7 linked regions of the Homo sapiens genome follow. The protein of the gene in region 4 purifies or fractionates together with the protein of the main gene of each other region. This does not show direct contact. Each region holds a gene or a part of one and is shown on either strand. Other genes may lie near its edges. The genes, in order: MPST, TIMM9, PEDS1, NADK2, ERMAP, POGLUT1 and SLC29A3.

The links.
Region 1: the proteins of NADK2 (region 4) and MPST fractionate together in Homo sapiens (co-fractionation; one large-scale study listed by BioGRID). This does not show direct contact.
Region 2: the proteins of NADK2 (region 4) and TIMM9 fractionate together in Homo sapiens (co-fractionation; one large-scale study listed by BioGRID). This does not show direct contact.
Region 3: the proteins of NADK2 (region 4) and PEDS1 fractionate together in Homo sapiens (co-fractionation; one large-scale study listed by BioGRID). This does not show direct contact.
Region 5: the proteins of NADK2 (region 4) and ERMAP fractionate together in Homo sapiens (co-fractionation; one large-scale study listed by BioGRID). This does not show direct contact.
Region 6: the proteins of NADK2 (region 4) and POGLUT1 fractionate together in Homo sapiens (co-fractionation; one large-scale study listed by BioGRID). This does not show direct contact.
Region 7: the proteins of NADK2 (region 4) and SLC29A3 fractionate together in Homo sapiens (co-fractionation; one large-scale study listed by BioGRID). This does not show direct contact.

Annotation. Positions count from the first base shown.
Region 1 is NC_000022.11:37,025,789-37,029,972, reverse strand, and holds the end of MPST (3-mercaptopyruvate sulfurtransferase), read right to left. Parts: intron 2,975-4,184; coding exon of another isoform or gene 2,916-2,974; exon of another isoform or gene 2,874-2,915; intron 758-2,873; coding exon 459-757; 3' UTR 158-458; downstream 1-157. UniProt on the Homo sapiens protein: Transfer of a sulfur ion to cyanide or to other thiol compounds. Also has weak rhodanese activity. Detoxifies cyanide and is required for thiosulfate biosynthesis. Acts as an antioxidant.
Region 2 is NC_000014.9:58,410,532-58,414,031, reverse strand, and holds part of TIMM9 (mitochondrial import inner membrane translocase subunit Tim9), read left to right. Parts: intron 1-2,060; 5' UTR 2,061-2,086; coding exon 2,087-2,125; intron 2,126-3,093; coding exon 3,094-3,189; intron 3,190-3,500. UniProt on the Homo sapiens protein: Mitochondrial intermembrane chaperone that participates in the import and insertion of multi-pass transmembrane proteins into the mitochondrial inner membrane.
Region 3 is NC_000020.11:50,125,858-50,130,041, forward strand, and holds part of PEDS1 (plasmanylethanolamine desaturase 1), read right to left. Parts: intron 3,834-4,184; coding exon 3,689-3,833; intron 2,331-3,688; coding exon 2,118-2,330; intron 1-2,117. Other genes in the region: PEDS1-UBE2V1 (TMEM189-UBE2V1 fusion protein), read right to left, coding at 2,118-2,330, 3,689-3,833. UniProt on the Homo sapiens protein: Plasmanylethanolamine desaturase involved in plasmalogen biogenesis in the endoplasmic reticulum membrane.
Region 4 is NC_000005.10:36,235,170-36,239,353, forward strand, and holds part of NADK2 (NAD kinase 2, mitochondrial), read right to left. Parts: intron 1-4,184. UniProt on the Homo sapiens protein: Mitochondrial NAD(+) kinase that phosphorylates NAD(+) to yield NADP(+). Can use both ATP or inorganic polyphosphate as the phosphoryl donor.
Region 5 is NC_000001.11:42,826,797-42,830,980, forward strand, and holds part of ERMAP (erythroid membrane-associated protein precursor), read left to right. Parts: exon of another isoform or gene 1-3,454; coding exon of another isoform or gene 3,455-3,652; coding exon 3,653-3,737; intron 3,738-3,971; coding exon 3,972-4,184. UniProt on the Homo sapiens protein: Possible role as a cell-adhesion or receptor molecule of erythroid cells.
Region 6 is NC_000003.12:119,478,674-119,482,857, reverse strand, and holds part of POGLUT1 (protein O-glucosyltransferase 1 precursor), read right to left. Parts: intron 3,682-4,184; exon of another isoform or gene 3,184-3,681; intron 2,951-3,183; exon of another isoform or gene 2,808-2,950; coding exon 2,686-2,807; intron 1-2,685. UniProt on the Homo sapiens protein: Dual specificity glycosyltransferase that catalyzes the transfer of glucose and xylose from UDP-glucose and UDP-xylose, respectively, to a serine residue found in the consensus sequence of C-X-S-X-P-C.
Region 7 is NC_000010.11:71,317,586-71,322,433, forward strand, and holds the start of SLC29A3 (equilibrative nucleoside transporter 3), read left to right. Parts: upstream 1-1,673; 5' UTR 1,674-1,724; coding exon 1,725-1,725; exon of another isoform or gene 1,726-2,146; intron 2,147-4,848. UniProt on the Homo sapiens protein: Uniporter that mediates the facilitative transport of nucleoside across lysosomal and mitochondrial membranes. Functions as a non-electrogenic Na(+)-independent transporter.

The sequences.
Region 1 (4,184 bases), on a different chromosome or scaffold from region 4:
GCTCAGTCACAGAAGTGGGGAGCTCTGGGGCCCCAGCACTGCTTGGAAGGCAGAGACAGGATCTCCAAGACCCTCAGGCTCCCCAGAGTGACCTTTGCTGGGCATGACAGAACCCCTGGCTCCTTAGGAAAACCGAGGCAGCCCCAGAGCTACAAGATTTAGCACTTGGTTATTTTATTTCCTCAAAAATAAAACAGAAAGGAGGCGGGGCCCCAGCTCAGCACCAGGTGGGCAGCTCGGAGTTGTGGCCTCCCTCCTCCAGGGCTCGCCTCCGCCTTTCCTCCCGCCCCTACTGGCAGCCAACAAGTCAACGGAATTCCTGGCCTTTGAGATGTCACCCCAAATGCCACCTGAGTTGAGTGAAGAAACACTCTCTTGGTGAAAGCAGAAGCGGAGCTACCAGGCCAGGCATTGCTGGTGGCCGGCATCACCTGAGCTCGCCTGTGTCCTGCCCAGCTTCAGTGGGTCTTCCCCCGGCCCTCTGAGATGACATCCTCGGGCCGGGCGCGCATGTACCACTCCACCCAGGAGCCATCGTAGATGGGCACGTCTGGCTTGCCGCAGAGGTAGGCCCCTAGTGCCACGTGGCAGGCTGTGACGCCAGAGCCACACGTGGCCACCAGTGGCTTAGACAGGTCCACTTTCTTCTCCTGGAACAGATGGCGGATCTCCTCAGGGCTCTTCTCCAGCCCCTCCTGGCTCAGGAAGTCTGTGAAGGGGATGTTCACGGTACCTGGGATGTGGCCAGGTTCAATGCCTACAGCAGGGGAGCAGGGAGGAGGGGACAAATAGAAGGATGCTATGAATGGTACCTCGTATTTGTGGTGCTCGAGATATTGAGAGCATCCCATGCAAGCATGGTGCTAAATCCTTTATATCCACCATCTCATTTAATTCTCACAACCATAAAACCTGAGCACTGTTTAGAGGAGCCCCCATTTTATACACGGTGATGCTGAGGTTAAGTACCACCTGAGGCTAACACATCTAGCAAATTGCTGACTGAACTTTGAACCTAAGAACTGGGCCCCAAGGTTTCCTGACTATGCACCCTAGGGACAGCAAAGCAATAAACAAGACCCCTGCCTAGCTAGAACGTGCAGTACCTGCAGGCAAGGAGCTTTAATCTGGCAGGGCAGACAGGCAACTGAATAATTACAAGCATAATGGGTGTTCCAAAAGTGCCCTACTGGGTGGCCTGGGGCATGTAAAAAAAAAATAACGCCAGTAACAGCAATAGCTGATATTATTATTACTGAGACAGGGTCTCATTCTGTTGCCCAGGCTGAAGTGCAGTGGCATGATCAAGGCTCACTGCAGCCTCAACCTCCTGGGCTCAAGCAATCCTCCTGCCTCAGCTTCCCCCCGAGGGGCTGGGACTACTACAGGCACATGCCACCATGCTCAGCTAATTTCCTTTTTTTGTTCTTTTTTTTTTTTTTGAGATGGAGTTTTGCTCTTGTTGCCCAGGCTGGAGTGCAGTGGCATGATCTTGGCTTACTGCAACCTCCACCTCCTGGGTTCAAGTGATTCTCCTGCCTCAGCCTCCTGAGTAGCTGGGATTACAGGCACCCATCACACCTGGCTAATTTTTGTATTTTTAGTAGAGACGGGGTTTCACCATATTGGCCAGGGTGGTCTCGAACTCCTGACCTCAGATGATCCACCTGCCTTGGCCTCCCAAAGTGCTGGGATTACAGGTGTGAACCACCACGCCTGGCCTAATTTGGTTTTTATAGACATGGGGTCTCAGTATGTGGCTCAGGATGGTCTTGAATTCCTGGCCTCAAGTAATCCTTCTGCCTCAGCTTCCCAAAGTGCTGGGAATATAGGAGTAAGCCACCTTGCCTGGCCAATAGCTGATGTTATTGAATGCTTACTTTCTGCCAGGCACTGTTTGGAGACGGTCAGCTATACTTTCTCCTTGAATCCACCCCAAAATTCTCTGGGAAAGAAATTATTATCCTCTCTTTTGTAAAGATGAAGAGAATGAAGTACAAAGACTAGCTTGTGCAAGCTAGCAGAGGGCAGGGAGGAGTAAACCCAGGCAAGTCTATGCTTCCCACCTTCACGCCACACTGGCTGGGGGCTCAGTGGGTGGAGGAAGTTTCTCTGAGAATGCCCCGAAGGATGAGTAGGATTCAGTCACATAAAGGGGTCTGGGTGGATGGAGGCCTAGAGCATCCCAGGCAGAGGGAATCTGAAAGGCGAGGGAACCACCTGTTGCCCGGAGGGGTTAAAGGTCATTGTCACGAAAGCCCAGACAGTGAGAAGCCAGAGGCCCAAAGGGGAAGCTGAAGGGGATGGGAACGCCTTAGCAGGCCTGGAGTAAGACTTGGGGGCTTTGACCTGACTGCAGGGGGAACTCAGGCTTCTGCGTTTACTTTTTTACTGTTACTTTTAATTTTTTTTATTGAGAAGGGGCTTGCCATCATGTCCAGGATGGTCTTGAACTCCTGGGCTCAAGGGATCCTCCCACCTCAGCCTTCCAAAGTGTGAGGATTATAGGTAGGAGTTACCTTGCCCAACCTAGATTTCCATTTTTAAACGATCATTTTGATTGTAGCAGAAAGAATGGGATGGGAAAGGCCCACACCTCTGCAGACTCCCAGGGTGTTTTTTGTTTTCACTGCCCCACCTTGAGGCAGGGGTTACTAACATTCCCATTTTCATGCAGGACTGGGATTTGCAACAAAATAAACCTTCACAACTAACGCTTGGGCTGGGCACGGTGGCTCACGCCTGTAATCCCAGCACTTTGGGAGGCCGAGGGGGGCAGATTACCTGAGGTTGGGAGTTCGAGACCAGCCTGACCAACATGGAGAAACCCCGTCTCTACTAATAATACAAACATTAGCCGGGCGTGGTGGCACATGCCTGTAATCCCAGCTACTCGGGAGGCTAAGGCAGGAGAATCACTTGAACCCGGGAGGCGGAGGTTGTGGTGAGCCGAGATTGCGCCACTGTACTCCAGCTGGGAAACAAGAGCAAAACTCCGTCTCAAAACAATAACAACAACAACAACAGAAACAAACACAAACAAAAAACCCCCCAAAAACGAATGATTCAAATCTGAGCCATTCAGACTCTTGTCCAGCTTCTGCCTTGGTTTCCCTCCGCAGTGGAGTGACACCCCCACAGGAGCTGCTGACCCATGTATCGGTATCTATTCTCAGACCCTGGCATAGAGACAGCACTCCCGAGTCTGTGGAGAGGCTGGAATGGGTCATGCATCCCACCTAACAGACACAGTTACCGGGCTTGGTCAGATATCACATAGAGACCAGCCCAGAGCAAGGAGGAGGAACAAACTCTCAACCCAGGGTGGTGACTGTAAAGGGAGGGCCATCCCTACACCTTGAATCCCACCAAGCAAAGCATGTTTCCCCTGCCTGCTGGACTGGTGTGGCACATCACAGGAGCACTTGGCCAGGCCTCAGGCTGTGGAGTGGGAATGATGACGACAGTGACATTCATCACTGATCCAGCTGCAGTGAGCTTAGTTTGTTTTGACAACAAGCCTGCTAGGCGTGTATCACCTCCCATTCTATAGATGAGCTAGTGCGACTGAATAAGTGTCAGGCACAAGTGTGCAGCACACTTGTGCATGAAAACCCGGAGCTGAGTGCTTTACACACTTGCTCTCCTTGCCCCTATCATGTCTTTATGCTCTGTGTTACTGCTCCCATTCTACATAGGCAGAAGCTGCAGTTCAGAGACATTAGATGACCCGTCGTGTGTCACAAAGCCCATGTAAATGTGGCAGGGATCTGAACCCCAGTCTGGCACCACCAGCTAGCTCCCCTGTGTTGCTCATTCCCCTGGGGCTGAGATGGAGAACCCAACAGGATTAAGGTGGTGCTCTCATTAGGCTGAACCACATGAAACTGACACCTGTGTAGGTTCAAAAATGGTTGGATATCAGCTGTTTCCTATGGTTCCGGTAACACCAACATTGCTTTGCAGGATTCCATGCAACAGGGACCTTCTGTATTCACCAAACCTCTCTGGAACATCGACTCTGTGCCAGGTACTGAGCTAATCTTCAGGATGCATGAAGAGCAGGGACAGTCCTTGCCCTCAGGCCATCCAAAACAATGCTGGCCCATGGTGAGCCCAAGCGGCTCCAAACCCAATCTGTAGCCATGGGAATGCTCTTCAGAGAGCTCTCTAGGGGCAGTGGT
Region 2 (3,500 bases), on a different chromosome or scaffold from region 4:
TTTTTTTTTTTTTTTTTTTTTTTCTGAGACGGAATCTCACTCTGTCACCCAGGCCGGAGTGCAGTGGTGCAATCTCGGCTCACTGCAAGCTCCACCTCCCGGGTTCACGCCATTCTTCTGCCTCAGCCTCCCAAGTAGCTAGGACTCCAGGCGCCCACCACCACGCCCAGCTAATTTTTTGTATTTTTAGTAAAGACGGGGTTTCACTGTGTTAGCCAGGATGGTCTCGATCTCCTGACCTCGTAATCTGCCCGCCTCAGCCTCCCAAAGTGCTGGGATTACAGGCGTGAGCCACCACGCCCAGCCTATACAAATACAAATCTTTTATATGAAATGCTCAACCTTTTTAGAACTAGCCAGGATATAGTAAATAAATAATGTTATACACATTCTTATATCTAGATTAACTGAACCTAAGTCCTACATTTAGGATATGTGAAAATCTCAGGAATTCAGAAAGGCTTTTTTATTTACTTGTCTTCCCTTCCCTGTTGCCGCCACGTTAGATTATAATTAGAAGTCTCTGATTAGTCTCTGTGATTGCCCTTTTTGAACTAGAGAATGTGTAGTAGAATGTATAATTCCTGTAACTTTCTTTTAAAACTCTGAATATCCTTCATGAGGGTTGTCAATTTCTAAGCAAATGGTGTTTGTTAACTGGTGTTTGTTAACTATTAATAGAACCTTTGTATTTACATTGTAAAAGGATCATTAGTAGTAAGGGTCAGAGTTAAATTAGCAACTAATTTTAAGTGTATTTGGAGTGGCTCAGATATATGAATCTACTTTTTCAACAATAGATTTTATTAAATCTAAATATAGGCCAAGTATTTCTGATGAAAATTTAGCATTCAAATTGAGATGTGGTGTAAGTGTAAAATGCTCACCAAAATCAAAGACTTACTACCAGAAAAGGAACGTAAAATGTCTTATTAATACTTTTTATGTGATTGTATGTTGAAATGTTAAAATCTTTGATATTTTTGATGTATTCGACTGAGTATAATAGTAAAAAATTTAAAATAAGCAATTTGGTGACTAGTGGAATAGTTAAGTAATTTTAGGAAAACAGCAAAAATCTCTTGATTTCCTTTATTTTTCTTTTTATTATCATTATTATTATTATTATTTGAGATGGAGTCTCACTTTGTCACCCAGGCTGGAGTGCAGTGGTGTGATCTTGGCTCACTGTAACCTCAACGTCCTGAGTTCAAGCGATTCTCCTGCCTCAGCTTCCCAAGTAGCTGGGACCACAGGCACATGACACCACGTCTGGCCAATTTTTGTATTTTTTGTAGAGATAGGGTTTCACTATGTTGGCCAGGCTGGTTTTGAACTCCTGACCTCAAGTGATCCACATGTCTTGGCCTCCCAAAGTGCTGGGATTACAGGCATGAGCCACCACACCCAGCTTTTTTTAATTATTTTTTTAAGCCCAAACTTCACCATCTTGGTTTCCTTTATAACCCTCCTAGGAATGGGGCTTTAAACAAGCAGCTTAGCAAGGTAGCAGAGCAAACTATCTTAAAACTGGAGATTTTGATAGACAGGGCCTTTGAGTCCCAAACTAGCATTAGAAAATCTAATTCTCTGGCCGGGCACGGCGGCTAACGCCTGTAATCCCAGCACTTTGGGAAGCCGAGGCAGGCGGATCATGAGGTTAAGAGATCGAGACCATCCTTGCCAACATGGTGAAACCCCATCTCTACTAAAAATACAAAAATTAGCTGGGCATGGTGGTGTGTGCCTGTAGTCCTAGCTACTCAGGAGGCTGAGGCAGGAGAATTGCTTGAACCCGGAGGCAGAGGTTGCAGTGAGCCAAGATGGCGCCACTGCGCTCCAGCCTGGTGACAGAGTGAGACTCCGTCTCAAAAAAAAAAAGAAAATCTAATTCTCAACTGTAAGGTTCTATGGTCATTAATGATCTGAGAAATTGGGGGTGGTGGCATACAATTACATACACAGATTTATAAAATACGAGCAGTGATTCCCTAACTCTTCAGTTAGACTAAAAACATTTGTTTATAGATTGACAAACTTGTTTTGAATTTTTAAATTAGGTGACTAATAAAGGTACCAGAAGAATATGGCTGCACAAATACCAGAATCTGATCAGATAAAACAGGTAAGGTATTCTAATTAAGGGGAAAAGATTTTGCAAAAAAATGTAAGGTGCTACTAATGCCACCATGTCAGGCTGGGTGCAGTGGCTCACATCTGTAATCCCAGCACGTTGGGAGGCCCAGGTGGGTGGATCACATGAAGTCAGGAGTTCAAGACCAGCCTGGCCAACATGGTGAAACTCCGTCTCCTAAAAATACAAAAATTAGCTGGGCGTGCTGGCGCACACCTCTAGTCCCAGCTACGTGGGAGGCTGAGGCACAGGAATTGCTTGACCCAGGAAGCAGAGGCTGCAGTGAGCCGAGATCGTGGCATTGCACTCCAGCCTGGGTGACAGAGCAAGACTCCATCTCAAAAAAAAAAACCATGTCAGTGGTTTCACAAAACAATTGTTTCTATTTCATTTCCAAAATGGATATTAAATGTTATAAAGTGTACGTATTTTTCTTGTTCTTTTTTTTTTTGGACACAGTCTCTCTTTGTCGGCCAGGCTGGAGTGCAGTGGCACGATCTTGGTTCACTGCAACCTCCATCTCCCGGGCCCAAGCAATTCTCCTGCCTCAGCCTCCTGAGTAGCTGGGATTACAGGCATGCGCCACCACGCCTGGCTAATTTTTGTATTTTTATTAGAGACAGGGTTTCACCATGTTGGCCAGGCTGGTCTCGAACTCCTGACCTCAGGTAATCCGCCCACCTCGGCCTCCCAAAGTGCTGGGATTACAGGCATGAGCTACCGCACCCGGCCAAGCATATGTATTTTTAATCTGACTGATAATCAAGGAAAAATTAAATATTCAACTAGAAAATAAAACTATTCTGTAGATCATACTGTACCCATTTAAGTTAGCATAATAACTATGATTTCAAGTGTTATAGTATATTTTGTCTAAATATAAAATACCAGTAATTTAAGTTTCAAAGCATCTTTGTTTTAAAAACCAAATACTAAAGAACATTCTGGTTTGTTTGTAGTTTAAGGAATTTCTGGGGACCTACAATAAACTTACAGAGACCTGCTTTTTGGACTGTGTTAAAGACTTCACAACAAGAGAAGTAAAACCTGAAGAGGTATGAAAAGTGTTACTCACTAAAATTCTACAAGCCTTCATAAACACTCTAAGTAGGATCCCCTTAAGCATTTCACTTGTTCCTACTTATTACAGGAATTTAGACTACCTTTTATGTTCCATTGCTTGGAAGAACTGAAGCAGCCACTGAACCACGGCATTGAGTTTAACAGTGCCAAATTTAATGACAGTTACATTGTACCAAGTCAGACCATTTTAGAGAAGATGCCTGCAGCTGCTGAGTTACTGTTTCACAACAAAGATTCTTACTAATTAGCTTTCAGCCAAGATGGCCTACCTAGAGAAACTTGG
Region 3 (4,184 bases), on a different chromosome or scaffold from region 4:
TGGGATTACAGGCATGAACCACTGAGCCTGGCTCTATTTACAATTTTTTTAATGCAGATGGGGTCTTGTCTTATATAGGCTGGTCTTGAACTCCTGGGCTCAAGCAATCCTCTCGCCTTGGCTTCCTAAAGTGCTGGGATTACACGCGTGAACCACCATGACAGGCCACCCTCTTTCATTTCTTTATAGCCTTTATGATAACCTGTAACCATCTTCGTTAATTCTCTATTTTCCTGTTCTGTGTTTGTTCACCCCCCAATCCCCAACTGGAACGTTATCCCCAAAATGCAAAACACCATGTTCTTTCACTGCTGATCCTCAGTGCTTAGAATACAGCCAGGCGCAGAGTAGGTGCTGAATAAATATTGCTCACAATCTTACAGCCTTCCAGCTCACCATGAGGTAGATACTAATATCAGTCCCATTTTCCACATGAGCACACTGAGGCTTAGAGAAGAGTTTCCCAATTAGCAGGTGGCCAAACCAGGATTGGAACTCAGCCCTGCCTAAGTAGTTAACCCATCTCCTAAATAGCCTGAATTCTAATCCCTCCACCTGCCTTCCAAGGAGCACAAATTGAGGACATGAAAAAGAATGTTTTTTTGTGGTTCTCAGTTCTGTTTCCAGAAAGACCTAAAAAAAAATAGTAGCTGTAATTTATCAAGTACCTACTATATGCCAAACACCGCATTTGCCATTCCCACTATGGCCCTAAGAAGGTGATATATGAAGGAGGCGGCTGCAGCCCTATTTTGTAAGGAGAAAAGCGGTCCCCAGGGAGGTTTGTGAGTTGCCTAAAGGCACATGTGGAGAAGCTGAGAGTTAGGCCTGAGTTAGACTTGACAGCACCTGATACACTTAACCTTGAAAGCAGCCCAGCTGGCTCCAGAGAAACTCCCAGTTCACCTCACCTCTTTCGCACTGGCTGCTAACTGAGCATGGCACGTGGGCCTCCTTTCCCTTCCTCCACTGCACTGGGCATGTTCCTGCCTCTGGCCTGCTGCTTCCTGTTACCTTTGCTCTAATCTGTGCTCATCTATCTTCAGGGCCCTCCCACACTTCTCTCCTCCCTCTTCAGTTGCTCTGCCCCCTTCTCTCCTCCCTCTTCCACTGCTCTGCCCGCTTCTCCCTCTTCCATTGCTCTGCCTCAACTCCAGTCAGGAGCCTCTTTGCCATTCCGGAAACACACCAAGCAAGCAAAGGCCAGCCTCAGGGCCTTCGCACCTACTGTTCCTGCTGCCTAGAGTGCCTCCCACAGAGGTCTGCACGGCTTTGTCCCTCAGCTCCTCGGGGTCTTTGTTCAAGTGTCACCTTCCCTGACCACCCGATTTAAGAGGCAAAGCCCCCACTTCCTTCTCCCACCCCTGCTTTATTTTCCTCCATAGCAGTTAGCACCATTAGCCACGCTACACATTTTATTCATTCGTTCCAGCTCCCTCACTAGATGGTGAGTGCCACAAGGGCAAGGATCCGTGTTTTCTGGTTTTTTTTTTTTTTTTTTTTTTTTTGAGACAGTCTCTGTCACCTAGGCTGGAGTGCAGTGGTGCGATTTCAGCTTACTGCAACCTCCACCTCCCAGGTTCAAGCAATTCTCTTGCCTCAGCCTCCCGAGTAGCTGGGATTACAGGTGCCTGCCACCAAGCCCAATTAATTTTTTTTCGTATTTTTAGTAGAGATGGGGTTTCACCATGTTGGCCAGGCTGGTCTCCAACTCCTGACCTCAAGTGATCCACCCGCCTTGGCCTCCCAAAGTGCTGGGATTCCAGGCATGAGCCACTGCGCCCAGCTGATTCATGCTATTTTGTTTGCTGCAGGAGCCTACGCCCAAAGCACCATGGCATGTGGTAGGTGCTCAATAAATACGGGATGATGGGTGGCTGGAATCACAACGCCATGAAGTCGAGGGAGAGGGCTTTGTCAGTCTCATTTACTGTGTCCTCAGCACCTAGAATAGTGCCTGGCACACAGTAGGTGCTCAATAAATGCATGACCTGAGAGACTGTTCCCAGAGGGCAAGGACTGTGTGACCTCCTGCTGTGATCTCTGCCCTCCTGACCTCGAAGATGGTGCAGTGGCTGGGGTGGGGAAAGCCCATTCCACGCCACTGGTGGCCGCACCTGTGGTGATGCAGAAGTAGGTCTCGTGGGGTGAGACGTGGTGGATGCGATGGTGTTTACGTGGCAGGATGACATGCCAGTCCTGCAGGAGGGTGACCCAGCGTGGCAGCCCAAAGTACGTGTGCGACCACTTGTGGATCTGGTTGGTGAAGGTGCCGAAGATGATCAGGCAGAAGACGAAGCACTCCCAGGGGTATAGCTGCTCCAGGGCTTCTGCAGGTTGGGGAGAGGGGGGGCCGGCACAGCTGTCACTCGGGACGGGGAACCCACCCCAAATGGCCCTCACCACCTGCTCCTGGGCGGCTCCTGAGCTGGGCAAGCACCCAGGATTCTCTTCCACCCCCTGCAGGGCCGCAGGCAAGCTCAGGTGCTGCCCTGGGCTTCAGGCTTTCCTCCTGCTCAGGAAGCAGGCGTAATGGTGTAATAGGATAATGGCATAAGCATGGCAATGGCTGGGAATGTAGACCGGAGTCAGCTGGAGCTGGGTTCCGATCTCTGCCGACATTTCTTGGCAGTATGGGCTGGATCGGTGACTCTGCCTCTAAGAAGCTTAATTTCCCCATCAGGAAAATGGGAATGATGCCTTCACCCAGGTTCCCTAGAAGCGGAGCCTGAAACAGGTTCTTGTGCATGTGATTTATCAAGGGAGCCTCTTCAGGAAAAAACCTCGAAGGGAGGGAGGGAAGCAAGACACGGCAGGGGAAGAGCAGAGCAAAGATGGGGTGGGTGGCGTCCTGTCTCAGTCTGTTCCTGCAAGGAGCTCTGAGGTGTTAACGGCTCTTTAGAATTAGACCCACTCAGAGGCAAAGGGACTAGCGTCGGAGGCGTTTCAGTCACTGGCTCCAGCCTTATCCCAAGGAGACAGGTGGGACCTCCCCTCCATCCCTGGAGAAGCTGGGAGCTGTCAGCAGCCACCACTCACAGAAGCAGGGGCTGGGTGCACCCCCAGGGAAGGGGATGGGCAGGGTGCCATAGCACCCACTACACTACACGTCCTCACCACCTCTACCCACCGGAGGCTGCCTGAAGAACAAATGGGTGTTAAGGTGCTGGAACAGGACCGGGCCCCAACCTACCTCCACCTGACAGATAAGGCAACTGAGGCTCAGAGTGGTGAAATCACTTACTTTGGGACCAGTCCCTCTAAAAATAGGCAGGCCCTGTTTTCACAGCCTAGACATTTTCCACTAGGCCACGGTAGCAAAACCCCAGAAGCCCTGCCAGGCAGGTAACACAAATGAACAAGGTGGGTTGGGTGCAGGGAAGCAAGGAATAGTGGGGACGGTGGTAAACTGGAAAGACGCGTCCTGTCAAAGGCAGTGGCTGCAGCTCAGCTCCCACCCAGTGAGGCCAGGTGGGAACATGGACCCAGGGGGGCCAGAGCAGATTGTGCAAGAGAAGCTGGAAACCTCCATCTTCATGTCAGGTTTCCTGATTTTACATGAAGACAATGAATGAAAACTCTTTTAAAATACCATAAGGAGCCAAACACATAAGCCCCAGAAGGCTCCTGGGGGTCGGCCTCTGCCCCCAAGGCCCCCTCCCAGCCCACCACTAGCTGGGTGTCTCACCAGGGCTGTGGGTGCGGAACTTGTAGGCCATGTTTAGCAGCGGCAGCAGTGTCACCAGGCAGTTGTCCCCGTTGGTCTCGATGAAGTCGTGCCGTGTGATAGCTGTCGGGTCAATGTGGTGCTCCCGGAAGGGTCGGATGAAAGCCTGGAGTTGAGGGGGACACAGCCCCAGCAGTCAGCCTAAGGTGGTCAGCTGCTCTCCACAGCCCCCTAAACACATTCACCCTGGGCTCACCTCCCGCCTTTGATCCTAAGTTTCCTCCACCCGGGATGCTTGAACATTCCCACCTGGCCCACTGCCAGACACAGACCCCATCCAGCCTTTGGGGAGATGAGCCGAAATGACCCTGGAAGGGCTTTGGGTTGGCACTGTCTGCCTCTGGGCCTCAGTCTCCCTACCTGTGCTGTAAGGGGGCTTGGAGACAACCTCCGCCCTTCCTCCCCACCCCAAGGCAGTTGAGGAGGTCCCTCTAAGTAAAAGGTGGGACCCTCTGGA
Region 4 (4,184 bases):
CTCTATTACTTTGAAATGATAACTTCTTTAAAATTTTGGTTAAAAAAACACTACGCAAGCAGAGTTAAAAATCAACATATTTTTAGTTCACTTAAGTGATCTATCTTAGTAAAGGAATCTACTTTGGAGTTAACCAAATCAATGCTATTTCAGGTACATAATTTAAATATATGTAACATTTACATAATGATCATTATTGTGGCTAAACTGGAATTAGATTATGCAGCTTTAAGTTAAATTATGTAAATTGTAAATTATTTCACCTTTCTAAAAATTATGTGAGAAAGGAAAAGCAGGTATTACTATAAATATTTCAAAGCCAAAGAGACTGATTCAGAGAGGTTAGGTTACTTGCTCAAGATTACAAAGACATCAGATTGTGCTTTCAGGATCAAAACTCTGATCTTCTGCTGTTAAAGCAGGATTTGTCTACTCTGTTATATCCATGCAGCCACATACTACTAACATTCCTACATTAGCCATATATCTTACTCCTGCTTGAGAACTGTGAATACTCATTAGGCCACTAAGCCTCAATTGTGATGACTAAGTTACATAACTCAACAACTATTCTGTTCTTTATCAGGACCTAATTCTACCACCTTTCATTTAGGAAGAGGAGAGCCAATTGGATGAACCCTCCTTCAATGCAAATGTTTTACAAAGATTGGTCTATTTTCCTGCATAATCCATATCTAGTGGTTTATTATGAAGAAAATATATATATATATATATATAAAAAATAAATTTTCCTAAAGCGTGAAATAACTGGCACACTTGCTGATATTTTGAAATTATATATTTCCGTTGTACATTACAAAGTTCACTGATAGTGACAAATAAAGTCAATTTACACTTTACTAGTTGAGAAGAGATTAATGTGCATCAAACACAACTATTAGAAGTTAATTTATATAATTAAAAATATAGTAAAATGATAACAGTGAAAAATTTTGTTATTTGCAATCTCATGGCTGGTCACATATTTGTAGTTTTTAAAACCTCCCCCTAGATAATGCTTATATACAGTGAAGGCTGAACATCAGGGCTGTGAAGCATGTTGGTCAATGATTCTCTAATGGTGACACTTCAGCTACTGTGATATTTAATTCTTCTACATCTTTGTGAGTTTCCTATTTAACTGCAAGTATTTATAGAAAGGGAGTATACCTTAAACCTCTGTTTTCCAAGTTGTGTTCCACAGAATTTAAAACATTTTCTGCTCCCTCCCACCAAAAAGAATCCCATAGTCAAATAAAAATCATCTTTTGCTTGGGCTCATGTTTTTCAAAGACATTTAACCCGAAACCTCTATCAAAGAATCCAAAGCTTAAGGCTTAAACTCTGACTTAAGCTTTCAGCAGCTAACATCTGGAAAGACAGACAGCTGGTAATAAGGCCCTGGACTAGAAGGAAGCTGGTCCCCAGGCTCAAGGAGAAAAGACCTAAAAATGATCTTAACAGAACATCAGAAACATTTTACTACTTTTTTTAGTGGAAGTATGGGGGTGGAGAGGACGATAAAGGAGATGCAATTCTTGCCCTCAAAGAGTTTACAGTTTAGAAAAGAAAATAATCACAGATAAGTATTATGAAGTGAAGAATGCCTAACACAATCTTGGTAGCCAGAGAAAGGCAGAGGCACAGCAAGGTTACCAAGGATGGCATCCTGAGAGAGTAATGTCTGAGCTTAACCTCAAAAAAAAAAAAAAAAAAAACAGGAATTGGATAGAGGAAGAAGAGCATTCAAATCAAAGGAGGCTACAAAAGTAGACACATAGACACTGAGAGATGCAAATTCAACCACCCTGAAATACCATCTTTCACCCACCAGGTTGGCAAAGACCCAACAATTTAATGAACTATGTATGGAAAAATAAGTCCCCTTATACAGGGCTGGTGAAAGTAAAAATCTGTATAATCTCTAAGGGAAGCAATTTGGCCAAATCTGTTAAAACTTTATATGCACAAGGCTTTTGACTCAACAATTTCAACTTTAGGTATTTGTCTTAGAGCTTGATTTACATGCATATAAACACAAATGTTATTCATTTCAGAATGTGTTTAATAGCAGAAGATAAATTAGGACACAAAATAAAGTAACATACATACTATTTTTAAAAAGAATGGGAATGTTCTTTATGACAATCTCCACAAATGCTGTTAGGCTAAAAAAAAAGGCACATAATAGCTTAAATAGTATATTATCATTGAATAAAAAGAGATGAGGCAAAGAAAAAGAATATTTCACTGTGCTGATTTGTAGGTATAGGTTGCTTCTGGAAGAAAACACAAGAAATTGATAACAGTTACTTCCAGGGACAAAACTGAATGACAAATGACAAGTAACAGAAAGACTTCTTTGTATAATATTTTGTATCTTTTATATTTTGAATCATTTTATGTGCTACTGATCCATAAATTAAACTAAATCAGTACAACATCTAATGGAAATTAACACAGTTTGAAATTGCTAGAATATGAAATTTAAGACAAGAAGTGATCAGAAGTGAAGCTCAAGAGATAGCCAGTTCATGAAGGGACTTATCTGCCATTCTAAAGATCATGAACTTGAGCCCACAACTGTGTTTCTCAGTTTAACTGGGGACCACATGCCAACCAGGGATAAAACACATCCCTGGAATTCAGCCGGAGTCATTAATTTCAGGTGTGTGCTTCATAAAACCAAAGTCTGGGAATTCTCCACAAACTGAGTCAGAGTCTTGCGGGGCTAAGGTTCAGGTGTCTGCATTTTAACAAGTACTCTTGGTGACTAAAGGGTACAGGGAGCTTCTGTGGAGTTCCAAGCAAAAGAGAGAAAGGGCCAGATGTTCACTTTAGATAGACACTCTGGTAACTGTGTCTAGAAGATTTGAGAGGAGCAAGGATTCAGTTAGAAAGCTCTGGCAGTACTCCAAATCATGCTCTTTAATTTGATTAACAATCATATTGTATGTAATATACTTATTGCATACAATGTAGCAAAAGTATACCACCTGACAAAAGTATACCATGGTACGCTTATTGCATACCCTGTGGCAAAAGTATTATCTGCCCAAGTGCTACAACCTAAGCCACAAAATCTTCAGAAAACAAAAGGGAAATCCAAGGTGCTACACCTTCCAAGTCATCTAGTTTAATCCAATAACACGGCAGACTGTTAAATGAAATTATTCTATCCCATTATGAATTTTAAAAAACAAAACTAAAAATAGGAACCAGTAAAAGGGTTGCCGAGTTGTGAGACCTGGAATGATGGAGAGGAGGGCAGAAACTGCTGACTTCTTATTTGTTCTACATTAAAATTTTTTTTCCTTATTCAGTTCCCCATCCCTGGTGACAGGTGAAAAAGAGCTTTAAATAAAACCTTTTTTTGACCAATGAGGTATGTTTCTGGTGTCAAAATCCTTTCCAAGTCAGTTTTGTTTCATCTAGAGTTCTAATTTGTGTCAAGGACCCTGTTAATAGCAATTGCACATTTGCCAACAGCTACATCTCTTAATGATGCAAGTAAATTGTAATAATAGTTTTACTGGCCTTTGAAAGGTCATGAGACAGTAGAGGTAAAATGTTTGACCAGAAATCTGATATCACAAAATAAGTCACTGGTCAATCAATGGGGAAAAAGACAAGATTTTAAAATAAAGCAATGTAACCAATATGAAACGGTAAATAAAAGTCAAAACTTTGACTAGCTTGAAGGTTGTAAACCTATTCTGTGCATGCCTTATCAACTAAAAAATATTTCCTGTAATTGTTTACATTTCTACAAAGTTAGAAAATCATCAGCCTTCAGGGTATAAAATTATACTGGCACTCTATCCTTCATCTTCCATTTGCATTTTAACAAATAGCCTAAAACAGACCTGTTTTACATCAAAAAACCACCACCACGACAACAAAAGAGAATGCTTTGACAAAAAACCAAGTTACCATGACACTATAGACACAGCAGCCATGGTGAGACTCAAGCACTTGGCCACTTTCTTTTATATCCATCCAATTCACATGATTCACATAACTTAGTATTTTCTACCCCAGCAATATAACAAATAATACTTATCATCTTATCACTCCTATTACAGAATCCCATTTTAGGACAGCTTCACACAGCCCAGTATTCTTTGGCCTGTTAATAATCTCTCATCTGGTCTACAACTAATGCTATTGCATTCTGAGTATGG
Region 5 (4,184 bases), on a different chromosome or scaffold from region 4:
AGTGATCTGAGATCATGCCACTGCACTCCAGCTTGGCGGCAGAGTGAAACTCTGTCTCAAAAAAAAAAAAAAAAGTTACAAAATCACAGAGCAGTAAGGGACCAAGCCAAGACTAGGACTAAGCCATCTGATTCTAGCCCTCAATCCACTGTCACTTATAGCAATGTTTATAATAGCGATGTATTGGAAAACAACCTAAATGTCCTCAATATAGAATTATTTTAAAGCTTTTACATCTTATATCCTAACTTCTAAAATTCTATGTCCATGATGGAATCCTAAAGTCATGTAAAGAAGATTTGATTGCCTTGGGAAATGCACATAATGTAGCACTTGGTGAAAATATCAGGTATCAAAACAGTATATAAAGTATTTATTTACTTATTTATTTAAGACAGGGTCTTGCTCTGTCATCCAGACTGGAGTGCAGGGGCGTGATCATGGCTCACTGCAGCCTTAACCTCCTGGGCTCAGGTAATCCTCCTACCTCAGCCTCCCAAGTAGCTGGGACCACAGGCACATACCACCACAGCCAGTTGATTTATTTTTATATTTTTTTGTAGCAACAGGGATTTGCCATGTTGCCCAGGCTGGTCTCAAACTCCTGGGCTCAAGCAATCTTCCCACCTCTACCTCAAAGTGCTGGGATTACAGGCGTGAGCCACTGTGCCCAGTCATGGTTTTTGTTTGTTTGTTTTACAAAAAGTTATGTACATGCATAGAAAGAATATTTATAGAAACATTATCTTTGGGTGGAGGAATTACAGATGATTTGACATTTTTGTCCTTGTTTTGGATCATTTCCAGATTTTCCTACAATAAGTAAGACAGAAAAAGCCCCAAACTGTGGCATATACATTGAACTTTAGGAAGTGAAATCATATTTTATATTTGTTGGGGAAAATTTCTTTGTAAAGGAGTTCCATGATAATCACTCAGTAAAGTGTGGTGGTCATTTGCTCATTTTATAACTCATGATACAGGGCTATATAGGCATGCATTCATTCATCTGTTTATCCATGTTTTACATTCTATCTGCTTCCAGAAAGGATCCCGGCAATTCACTTGCATGGTACCCTGAAGTGTGTATGATTGCCTTTCCTGTTCTAAGTGTAAAAGAGAATAATACCTACTTTTCAGAGATGTTGTCAGTACTGAAGACAATATATATGGAGAAACAACAAATGCAATAAATAAGAACTATTATTGATTTAGAGCAATATCATAATTAGAAACATATTTATGATTTAGTGTTACTTCACAGCCATTAATAGGATGTTGACTACTATAATATTGATATGTTACATGTTAGAAGAGATGGAGGAAGGGGCCATCCTGGCAAACTAGATTAGAAGAATAAATCCTGGAGGTCAGTATGGTGACCAGATGGTTCTTACATCTGTGTAAGAAAATATGAAAAAAAGGACCTGGTAGCACTTCTTACATGGAGTGACAATCTAACAGAAGGACTTCATTTGCTTTTTATTTCCAGCATCTGGTGCAAATCATTTTACATGTATTTTCTTTGATCCTTACTATAACCCTATCTATGAGGTAGGTACTATTATTAACTTCATTTCATGTGTGAGCAAGAGGAGGTTTGGAGAAGTAAACTAACCTGTCTAAGGCCACCAGTTAGGAAATGGCAGAGCCAGGACTTGAACCCAGGCTGACTCTAGAGCTCATTCTTTTTTTAAAAAAATTTTTTTTTTTTTTTGAGACAAGGTCTTGCTTTGTTACCCAGGTTGGAGTGCAGTGGTGCAATCACAGTTCACTGCAGCCTCAACCTCCCAGGCTCAAGAAATCCTCCCACCTCAACCTCCTGAGTAGCTAGGACTACAGGTGCGTGCCACCATGCCAAGCTAATTTTCTTTTATTTTTTGTAGAGATGGAGTCTCACTATGTTGCCCAGGCTAGTCTCTAACTCCTGAGCTCAAGTGATCCTCCTGCCTTGGCCTCCCGAAAGTGCAGGGTTATAGGCATGAGCTACCATGCCCAGCCTAGAGCTCACCCTCTTAACCACTTCATAGATTGTCTGAATCTTGGAATATGGGTCCATAGAGGTCTCCTTCTATTTGATTTCAGGCAGCCTTGGGTTAGCTTGGAGCTCTGGGTCACTCTGAGCATGTCTACCCAGGGTGTGCTTCAGAGTCACTAGAAAGTTGAGGGGTTTTGGGATTAGGGATAACGCCAGGGAATCCTGGGCCCTACTTCCACCTTCAACCATAATTGATAAAATAGAGAGCTTTTCTCATTTACTTAACTTCTCTTGTCCAGTTTTTGAGTAGCTAGTAACCTATAGGAAAGTGGGTGGGACAGTCACAAAAAAATGTGTCCTAATGTGATCCTAACCTCACTATGACCTAGTGCTATGTTGTCATTTGCTTAGAGGGGTATGTTGTATAAAATATGATTTAAAGAAAAACAAGAACAACCCTAAACCAGTGTGCTTTTTGCCATGAGAAAACAGAATTGGGTGTTTAAAATGAGAATGTGTTCAACGCTAGCTTCATCTTCAGTTTCCCAGTCTCCCTTTGACACCCCCTCCGTGTGTCATGACCTTTTCCATGACCTTCAGGGACTGGGCCTTCTGACTTATACAAAAGCCTCCTCTTTGGAAAGGATTTGAACCTTGGAGAGAATTTAAGAGATGAGTTGCCTTTTCCTAGAGCATTTACATTTTAAACTTTATGCTCACTTGTGGCATGAGAGATTCTGTTTCCTGCTAAAGCAATTTCAGGCAGTAGCAAATAGGTGGGGAAAGAGCTTTACAGGAGGAAATCCTTTAGGGTCTCCCTGTGATTCATGCACACGGTCATCTGGACCTGCTAGGGATAATTTTCCTCACTTGGTTAGTAATAATAACAACAACTACACACTTATGAGCAGTTGTTCTGCCAGGCATTTGTGGCCAGTGCTTGGCAGGCAGTATCTTTTTGAACCCTCACACTCATCTGTGAGGACAGTTTCCCTTCATAGATTAAGAACCCGAGGTCCAGAGATGTTATGCAACCTTCCTAGGGACACAGAGCTAGTAATAGGTAGAGCTAAGATTTGAACCCAGGTCTTTCCAGCGCCAGACCCTGAATTTGTAGGATTAGTGCCTTCAGGATGACATGGAGGGACCTCACTGCCTTGATCTGTTATTTATCAAGAGTCAAACTGGAAAAGGCTGTCAGGGAAACCTCCAGGCTGCATCTTGGGCAAAGATTGGCTTGAAACAGGCATTTCCCAAGCCTGGCCTTGGACACCAACTGTAAAAAAAAGGCCATTACTGGTGTTTCCTTGGTTAGTTCTGGGTATAAGTTCTGGATCCTCACTCATCTCATCTGCACTGACATCCTCACTCACGGCATTTAGAGACTTAACACGCCAGCCTCTGTGTGAGCATTTACCTCTTTCAACCCTCACCATAATCCCACAAGGAGGCACAGTTCTTTTACCCATTTTGAAGATGAAGAAACACAGTCTCAGAGAAGTTCGGTCACAGTATCACAAGGAGGTAAGTAGCAGAGCTGGGATTGGAGCCCCGGCCTTTGTGATCCCAGAGCACCAGCAATACCGTCTCGGCCTCGGCTCCTGGGTTATACCCTCTGTCACGCCAAGCCCATCAGCCCGCTTGTGCTGTCTCCCTCTGTCTGTCCTAGTTCGGATGGAGATGGCGAGTTCTGCTGGCTCCTGGCTCTCTGGCTGCCTCATCCCTCTCGTCTTCCTCCGGCTGTCTGTGCATGTGTCAGGTAGGAGTTTCTGATCCTCTTTCCCTGCCTGGTACATGTGATATTGGCGTCCCCAGAATAAGGAAGCTTGGCTGGAAACATTATGTCTTTTGGGGTTCTGTTCCCCCGGCCCTGGCAATCCTTTCCAGAGTCCTTCCTGGGCTCTGTCCGTCCCCGGGATATCCTCTTCCTCATCCCTTCCCAAGCTTTCTCCTGCCGTCCCTCCCAGTTGGCCTTGTCTCTTTTTTTGTCCAGGCCACGCAGGGGATGCCGGCAAGTTCCACGTGGCCCTACTAGGGGGCACAGCCGAGCTGCTCTGCCCTCTCTCCCTCTGGCCCGGGACGGTACCCAAGGAGGTGAGGTGGCTGCGGTCCCCATTCCCGCAGCGCTCCCAGGCTGTTCACATATTCCGGGATGGGAAGGACCAGGATGAAGATCTGATGCCGGAATATAAGGGGAGGACGGTGC
Region 6 (4,184 bases), on a different chromosome or scaffold from region 4:
AGTAACAAATGAAATCTTCGATCTGTAAAGAACAATGAATTCTTCTACAGAGTGAAATATAAATCAGTGGGCACAAACTCCCAAAATATCAGAAAAATAGAATGAACAGTGGCAGGCAGACATCAGTGCAGATGGATAAACAAGCAGATTATTAAATTTTCAAGGTAACAAATGAACATCATTAGAGATTCTAAACAGAGGGTTCTAAAAAACAAAATTGTATTTCTATAACCATGAATAAATTCAATTGAATAAAATGGGAAGGTATCAAAAGAAAAAAGTATTCATATAAGATTAGACTTTAAAACATTCTATCTGCCTAAAAATTGCTTACTAGTTTACCTGGGGGAAAATGGTATTAATAACTACACGGTGGAGTAACTGGATAACACCTTGACCCCAGGAGTTTGAGTCCAGCCTGGGCAACATAGTGAGATCCTGCCTTTTAAAAATAAACAAACAAACAAATAAATAAAGTGACTCTTTCATATGTACTGACATGAAACAAAGACATGGAAAGATTACTTAGATACACCAATAAGTTAGGGGGAAAGTTGCCTGAGTTATACATATTTGTAAAATTTTATGAGCATATATAGGTTTCATAATCAGTAAAAATGTTTTTAAAGATTTTGAAAACAAAGCAGCTGCATGGCAGGTGGGAAAAGAGCTACAAAAAGAAGAATGTGAAAAGGGTATTTGCAAGTACCTGAGGAGGGGGGGAAAGGATTAGAAAATTAAGGCCAAGGCCAAGAATAACTTAGGGAAAAAAAAGTTTAAAACCTTTTTTCCAGCTTAGTGTGGTGGCTCATGCCTGTAATCCCAGCACTTTGGAGGCCAAGGTGGGAGGATCACTTGAGCCCAGGAGTTTGAGATCAGGCTGGGAAACATAGCAAGACCTGTCTCTACAAAAAATTTTAAAAAACAACCAAGAAACAAAAAAACCACACCTTTTTCCCCCCCTCTCAAAATTATGTTCAAAACCCAAAAATAAACAAGAAATGACAGTCTCAATGTCAGGAAAACACAAGGAATATTAACCAGTAAAGTAGGTTGGATAATGCACTTGGAAACCTGGTCTTTAGGCCTAGATTTGCTTCTGACCTTGACCAGATCACTAAACCTTTCTGTACCTTCATTCCCTTATCCCTGAAATAAAGGGCTGGACAAAGACAATTTCTAGTTCCAGTTCTGTAAAATATGAGACTAAGTTATTATTTTTTAAAATTTCCAAATTATACCCACTAGAGAAGTTTGTTTTTTAACAAAGGGCTCTACCCACCACTGAGGACTGCAGCCCTGTACGTTTCTTCAGGAAGGGAATATTACCTTAATCCTCTTTGAATCTTCAGCCACACTTGGGAGAGGTGATAGGTATTTATGGAAACAAGGTTGAATTGTTTGCTTTCCTTATACCTGAGAGAAGGCCTATAATGACTGTGTTTCCGGAAGTTCTCTAATTAAGCACCAAAGTTGTTTGAATCATGATGTAAAATGTAGCTAGGTAAGAAATACCTACAGCTTGGATGAGCTACACAATCTAAATTCTGAAATGATAGCAGGATGGAGTCAACAGGCCAAGGCATGTCTCAGTCATGAATCAGAGAGGATCTGGAATAAGCTTGTACTTGAGATGCTTATGGGACATTTATGCTCCCTCAGCCCTGCCTAAACTACTTAGCTCTCAATTGCCAAGTATGTTTATATTCTTCCAAATAATTTTCTATCCCCCCTATGACGAGGTCATTCATTTTTTCTTACTATGAAAGAATGCACTCTTATTTAAAGAATCTTAAGTATAGAAAAATTGAAAATACTGACTGAGCACAGGGGCTCGTGCCTGTAATCCCAGCACTTTGGGAGGCCGAGGTGGGTGGATCACTTGAGGCCAGGAGTTCCAGACCAGCCTGGGCAACATGGCAAAACCACATCTCTACTAAAAATACAAAAAATTAGCCAGGTGTGGTGGCACATGCCTGTAATCCCAGCTACTCGGGAGGCTGAGGCAAGAGAATTGCTTGAACCTGGGAGGCAGAGGTTGCAGTGAGCCGCGATAGCACCACTGCACTCCAGCCTGGGAGACAGAACATGACTGTGTCGCAAAAAAAAAAAAAAAGAAAGAAAAATTTAAAATACAAAACAAAAGTCTCTGATAATCCCTTGCAAAGAGGCATTGCTGATAGTTTAGGATAGACTATTCTGCCCCTTTCTATGGATATGTAAATATTATTAGACACGTACAAAATTGTTTACACTACAGTTTTCTGTCTTTAATTTTTAACTTAAAAATTAGTCACTTAAAAATAAATAGGCTGGGCGCGGTGGCTCACGCCTGTAATCCCAGCACTTTGGGAGGCTGAGGTGGGCAGATCACCTGAGGTCAGGAGTTCAAGACCAGCCTGACCAACATGGAGACACCCCGTCTCTACTAAAAATACGAAATTAGCCGGGTGTGGTGGCACATGCCTGTAATCCCAGCTACTCGGGAGGCTGAGGCAAGAGAATCACTTGAACCTGGGAGGCGGAGGTTGCGGTGAGCTGAGATCACGCCATTGCACTCTAGCCTGGGCAAAAAGGGCGAAACTCCGTCTCAAAAAAAAAAAAAGTAAATAATTGGTTATATTCTATGGCTTATTTCAAGAAAACCCAGAAAGAGAAAAAATAAAACCTCTTTAAAGGACCTACCTTACCAGATCTTCTCTGAAGAGGTCCCACCGTCCAAGACCTGTAGGATAAATTGGCCAAACAGCAGGTCCCCCTTCCCAAAATGTCCAAGCAGGATACATGATATCATGGTACTCTGATGTCTTCAACAAAAACAGACAGGTCGTCCTAAATCAGTCTTGGAACAGTGAAAAGAGGCAACTGCAATCATGCCACAGGATCTGGACAGCCTTGGTTTAGTGTCACATTGTCAAAGATATATTTTCCCTATTTTCCAAAGTCTAGCCTGTAGACATTAAAAGGCAAAAGTGACTATGGATTAAAAGTCATGGGCTCACTGAATTCCAGAATTCAGAATCACATTAAAGGTCAGCTTTTTCAGTTCCCCCAAATTCTGTTTTTCTAGAGGATATATACTGTTAAGATTTCCAATTTAAGGAAACAATATGCCCAATTCTGAATAATCACAGAGCTCTCTCATTGTTTAACTATTACATTTAAGAGTTTACACTGTCTTACCAGTTTTTGGTTATTTCCCAATGGGTTTTTTTGAGAGTAAGAGCCAAGAAATACATGCAATGGTTAAGAGTGTGGGCTCCTGATGTGGATCACATGGGTTTGGATTCTGACTCCACCTCTTTACAGCTCTAGGCAAGTTACTTAATGGTTCTATGCCTCAGCTTCCTTATCACTGTAATGGGGGAAACAATAATATCAATAATATGATCTAACTAAAAGGTTTATTTTGAATATTAAATGAGTTGATACACGTAAAATTCTTAGAACAGTAGCTGGCACATTGTACATACTTGATAAATATTGGCTAGTGTTATCTCATACTATGGCACTGTTGGGCTCACATTGATTGGTCAATAAATTCTTGGTTATTCACTGATCGGGGTCAGAAGTATGGATGAGCAAAATGAGAAGGGGTGTTATCACATATCTTTTGAAAGAAGTTTGAGGTTGGGCACGGTGGCTCACACCTGTAATCCCAGCACTTTGGGAGGCCGAGACGGGTAGATCACCTGAGGTCAGGAGTTTGAAATCAGCCTGGTCAACATGGTGAAACCCTGTCTCTACTAAAAAATACACACAAAATAATAGCCGGGCATGGTGGCAGGTGCCTATAGTCCCAGATACTCAGGAGGCTGAGGTGGAGAATCACTTGAACCTGGGAGGTGGAGGTTGCAGTGAGCTGAGATCGCGCCACTGCACTCCAGCCTGGGCAACAGAGTGAGACTCTGCCTCAAAAAAAAGAAAAAAGTTTAAAGCCATATGTTCCCCCCTTTTTTTTTTTTTTTTGATCCACCTGCCTCGGCCTCCCAAAGTGCTGGGATTACAGGTGTGAGCCACTACACCTGGCCTCCATTTGTTCCCTTTTTATGGTTACTTCTGTTAAAAATCTGGCCACTGATAAACCTCTAACTCTACTATTTCTTCCACTGGAAATACATGTGCAATATGCTGTTTGCTGTCTCTCAAATATGTAAAAAATGTGATTCATCAAGCACCTTAAA
Region 7 (4,848 bases), on a different chromosome or scaffold from region 4:
TGAAAATGCTCTGTATATTAGAGGATTTTTTTCCAACGTAAAGAGGCTAAAAATAAGGCCTGATGACTAAACTAACATATACACTATCACATTTTGGGGGTGGGGAGTGTCTTCCTTGGAAGTGATGGAAATTTGCATTGAGTGCCTGGCATGGATCACCTGACTTAATTCTCCCGACAGTCCTAAGCCGACCCTGGGTTTCAGAGAGGTTTAGTAATTTTACCATTATCCCTCAGCTTGTAAGCCTGGAGCTAAGCCCCTTCCTCTCCTGGGCCGGGGGGCTTTCTGACAATTTAGGGTGCTAGTCTCCAAACTCGCCTGCTGGTGGAGCTTGTTAAATAGATCCATTCTGGATCCCCATTCTGCACCCCCTGAGTGATGGGTTGTATTAATCCAGGTATTTATTGAACACAAATTATGTGCCCACGATGAGGGAAGAGCAAACAAAGCAGATACAGCACCACCCTCAGGGATTGGGGAGTGGCAGCAACCCTCCTGGGGAGAGGTCCCCAGAATCTGGATGTGTACTCGAGACTTTTATGATCAGGCCAGTGTTTGGGGAATGGTGGTTATAAAATGAGAGGCTGGGGCAGGGAGTGGGGATGTTCTGAGAACCTGTCCACACACTGACAGCCTCAATGGGTTCTGTGGCACCCCTGAGCCCTGGGATGGCAACTGCAAGAATTTACTATCCATGGTCACAGATCTTCAGGCCCTGTGAAGCATCCAGATCCCCGCTCTGAATAGGCCAACTGGGCCAGGACCGGGAGTCAGGAAGGTTTCCGCCTTTTTTTTTTTTTTTTTTTTTTTGAGATGGAGTCTTGCTCTGTCGCCCAGGCTCCAGGCTGGAGTGCAGTGGCACCATCTCGGTTCACTGAAATCTCCGCCTCCCGGGTTCAAGCGATTCTCCTGCCTCAGCCTCCCACATAGCTGGGATCACTGGCACGCACCACCATGCCCGGCTACTTTTGTATTTTCAGTAGAGACGAGGTTTCGCCATGTTGGCCAGGCTGGTCTCAAACTCCCGACCTCAGGTGATCCGCCTGCTTCGGCCTCCCAAAGTGCTGGGATTACAGGCGTGAGCCACCGCGCCCGGCCCCTGCTTTCTTAAAGAACACGCGGCAGCTGTGTGTTACACGCTATGGCTGAGGTCAAGTGTGAGGGCTGGAATTGCTGACTGCCATGTTCTGGGTCTACTGAAAATAGCTGCCTGGCCTGGGAGGCCCAGTTCAGTCCGGGTGTGGGTCCCGCTTCACCTCCAGAGCAGCGGCAGCCGGTAAGGGTAGAAGCGGCCTTTGGAGAGGGGTCTCTGCAGCGGCCTGGGGACAAGATGAGGGCTCCTTTGAGTCCTGGGGTGCAGGTTATAGTAGCTAAAGGGGAGGTCTGAGACAGTGGGGTCTGGCTCCAAGGTAAAGAAGGAGCAGCAACCAAAAGGCCTGATGCGCAGCGCACCCATCGCAAGCATGGGCAGTGCGTTTAAGACTGGGTGACTCACTTTTTCTCCTATAAAATGGGCGCACGCAGGCCCCAGCTCAGCGCCAGAAGGGGGAGCCCCGGCGCGCCGGCAGAAGACAAAGGAAAAAAGCGTGTTTGCAAACGGGGAAGCGGCGGCGTGCTGCCGCGAGGGGCGGGGCGGGGCCGGGGGAGGAGCCCGCCTGCCGCCTGCCAAGCCCAGTGGTCCTGGCCGTGCGCCGGAGGCAGCGGCGGCGTGGCGCAGCGGCGACAGTAAGTGCGGGCCGGCTCGGGCTCTTCCGGCTACGGTCCCGGCCGCCCCCAGACTCGCGCTCAGCGACCTCCCTCCCGGGCCCTGGGGGCGGCTGCGGGCTGCCAGGGGAGCCGCAGGACCCTACCCCATCCGTGGTCCCTTCCCCACCGTCCCTCCTCTCTCTCCTTGCTCTCTGCCACCCCTCTTTCTGGGTCTCTATCTTCTCTTCCCCAAATCCTCTCCCCTCCTCCTCCCTGAGACTGGACCTCACCGCCTGTATGGTGGGGGCCTGGTATGGACCCGTCGGCCCGAAGTATCCAGACGGTGGCTGATTCTCTCGGTCCCAGCTGCGGGGCCTGAGGCTGGGGCTGTTTACACCGCAAAGCCGGTTCTGCCGCGGCCAGTAGGCGGTGCCCTGCGCTTCCCAGTGCCTTCCCACAGGTTAGCCCTACCAGCTCCCCACCCCGGTTCACAGCCCAGGAGATCGAGGCACAGAGGGGCGAGCCACCTAGCCAGAGTCAGGAACCTCCTTGGAACCAGCACCCAGGCTTCCCAGCCCAGATGAGGTTTTGCCGCGGCCCCAGCAGTGCCTGCCTCCTTGTGTGGGGCTGTCTGTCTGTGCATGGCCGGGCTCCCGCAGGTGACCCAGGAGCACGTTCCAGGCCACAGCCAGCTTGTTTTGGGGAAGGTTGGGCACTTCCTTGCCTGCCTTTCTCTTTATTTTTTAATCCAGAAGCCAGCAGCTAGCTTTTATAAAGACTAATAAGACTTTGCTCACTCCAGTGCCCTGGCCTGTGACCCTGGTTAGAGAAAATTCCTGGCTCCTTCTTCAGAAGCTCAGTCAAGCCTTGACAAATAGACGCTAGGAACTGAGAAGGGGGCCCTAGCCAGGTGTGGTCCTGAGTGACAGGGCTGGTGGACCTTCTAGCCGCCCCCACAGGTAGCTGGAGCCTCTGGAAAGAACCACTTGCCGGTTCTCTCTTGTTCTATGTGGGTGGGTCATGATTATTTTTTACATTTTAAACACTAATTTTTAAAATGTAACAAGTGAGCTTGTTACATTTGTACCATTTTGTGCCAGACAAAATAGCATAGACTGGGTGGCTTAAACAAAATTTGTTTCTCATGGATCTGGAGGCTGGGAAGGGCAAGATCAAGGTGCTGGTTGATTTGGTTTCTGATGAGGGCTCTCTTCCTGGCTTGCAGACAGCCTCCTTCTTGCTGTGCCTTCACATGGCTTTTCCTCTATGAGTGGGTGCATGTGGAAAAAGCGATTTTCCACACAGTGAGCTTCCAGACAGTGAGCTTGTTAATGCTGGCCTCCATGCGAATCCAGGCTGGGGAGGGGCTCTGCTAACCAGGGGAGTTTAAAATAGACTTGCTGGCTGGATGCATTGCACTTGGGCATCCAGTGGCCCCCCACCTGCTGGCTCCAGGGTACATGCTACCCCAGCAGGGGAGAATGTCCTGGTCGTGCAGAGTCCGTTCATTCAGCAAACATTGACAAGGGTGCCTGCAGTGTGCCTGGGCCCCTCCCGACTCACTGGCTTCAAGGCTTGCAGGAAGGATGCCTGTACTTGGAACCAGCAGACACAGATTCCCATTCCCAGCCAGTCCTCCCCGGTGTGCTGAGGAGTCCAGCATGGGCCCCAGTCTGCTTGGCTGTGTAACTTCACTCTTGTCATCTACTAGTTATGTGACCCTGGGCAAGTTACTCAACCTTTCTGAGCCTCAGACCCCTCTGTGAAATGGGTCTTAGAGTAGTACCTAATATATTAGGCTGTTGTCAGCCTCAAGTGTGACCTCTGTTAGGCACAGACCTTGGCATTTGTGATCACTGGACTTAAGTTTAGCTATTGGGAGTTCTTTCTATTTGTGGGACATAGCAAGTGCCTTCCAGACCTCAGTTTTTCCATCTGAAAAAAGGGGGCAATGTTTTCTGCCCTGCCTAATTCCAAGGGATGCTCTGAGGTTCTCCTGAAATAGTGGATAAGGTTCTGCACCCATGTGAGGAGGTGTTCCCATCCCACCAGGGAATAAAGGCCCCAGTCTTCTTGGTACGATGCTTTGAGTTAGGCTTAGCCTCCTATAGAAACCAAGATGCATTTATTTATTAGTTTATTGGGTGGGGAAGAGGCTACTGCAGAAGGGACTCTGAAGTGTCCCATCCTCAGCATTTTGGAGACATTTCTCATTTATCAAGCTGCTGCCACATCCTAGGTGCTATGTAGAGCAAAGAAGCAGGCATGCTACCTTACAGCCAAATTCAGCAGCCAGCCAGCCAGCCATGCGACAGGCCCAGGATGCCAGGGAGATGCTGACATTTGTTCAACAGCTGCTTATAGGCCAGGCATTGCCAGCCAGTTGCAGTTGCATAACTATCATAAAAACAGCTTCTCTGGGTTTACATTTGGGGAAATTGAGGCACAGAAATGTGGTAACTTGCCCAAGGCCATGTAGGCAATAGTTGCTGGCAGCCTAGGCTCTTCCATTTATCTTAGGCGCTACCATAGATTGAAAGTGGCTGGCTCCTTGTAGGGTGTGATGAGCAGAGGTGGGACCCAGGCAGGAGCTGCAAACCCAGGCTTGGCCATTTACGTGGCCTATGGCCTTCAGTTCTTTGGACCTCTCTTTCCTCACAAATGAAATGGGAATGGACTGTCAGAGGCTACACACCAGCTTCTGGAGGCAGCCCTGGACACTACCAGTTTTTTAAACAATTATTACTTAATTTGAATTTTTTTAAATTTACACTTTTAATTTTGTTTTTGAACCGGTAATAAACTAGTCACATAGTTCAAAATTCAAGAGACACAAATAAGAATGCAGGGAAGTCCCCCTCCCCGCCCCCCACCATCCCAGTTTCCCTCCTTAGAGACAGCCACTGTTAGAAACTTCTTATGTAGCCTTCCAGAGATATTCTGTGCATATACAAATACATATGTGTATGTATATTTTCTCTCCCCACTTTTTTTACACACATAGTAGCATATTCTACACACCATCCTGCTCCTTATTTCTTTCACCTGAAATCGAAAAGGGTTTAGAGATCATTCTTTGCCCATTAAGGGTCCTAATTCTTTTTTATGGCTGCACAGAACTGTGAATGCCCTTAGACCAGGTTTGCCTTTCTGGGTACATTG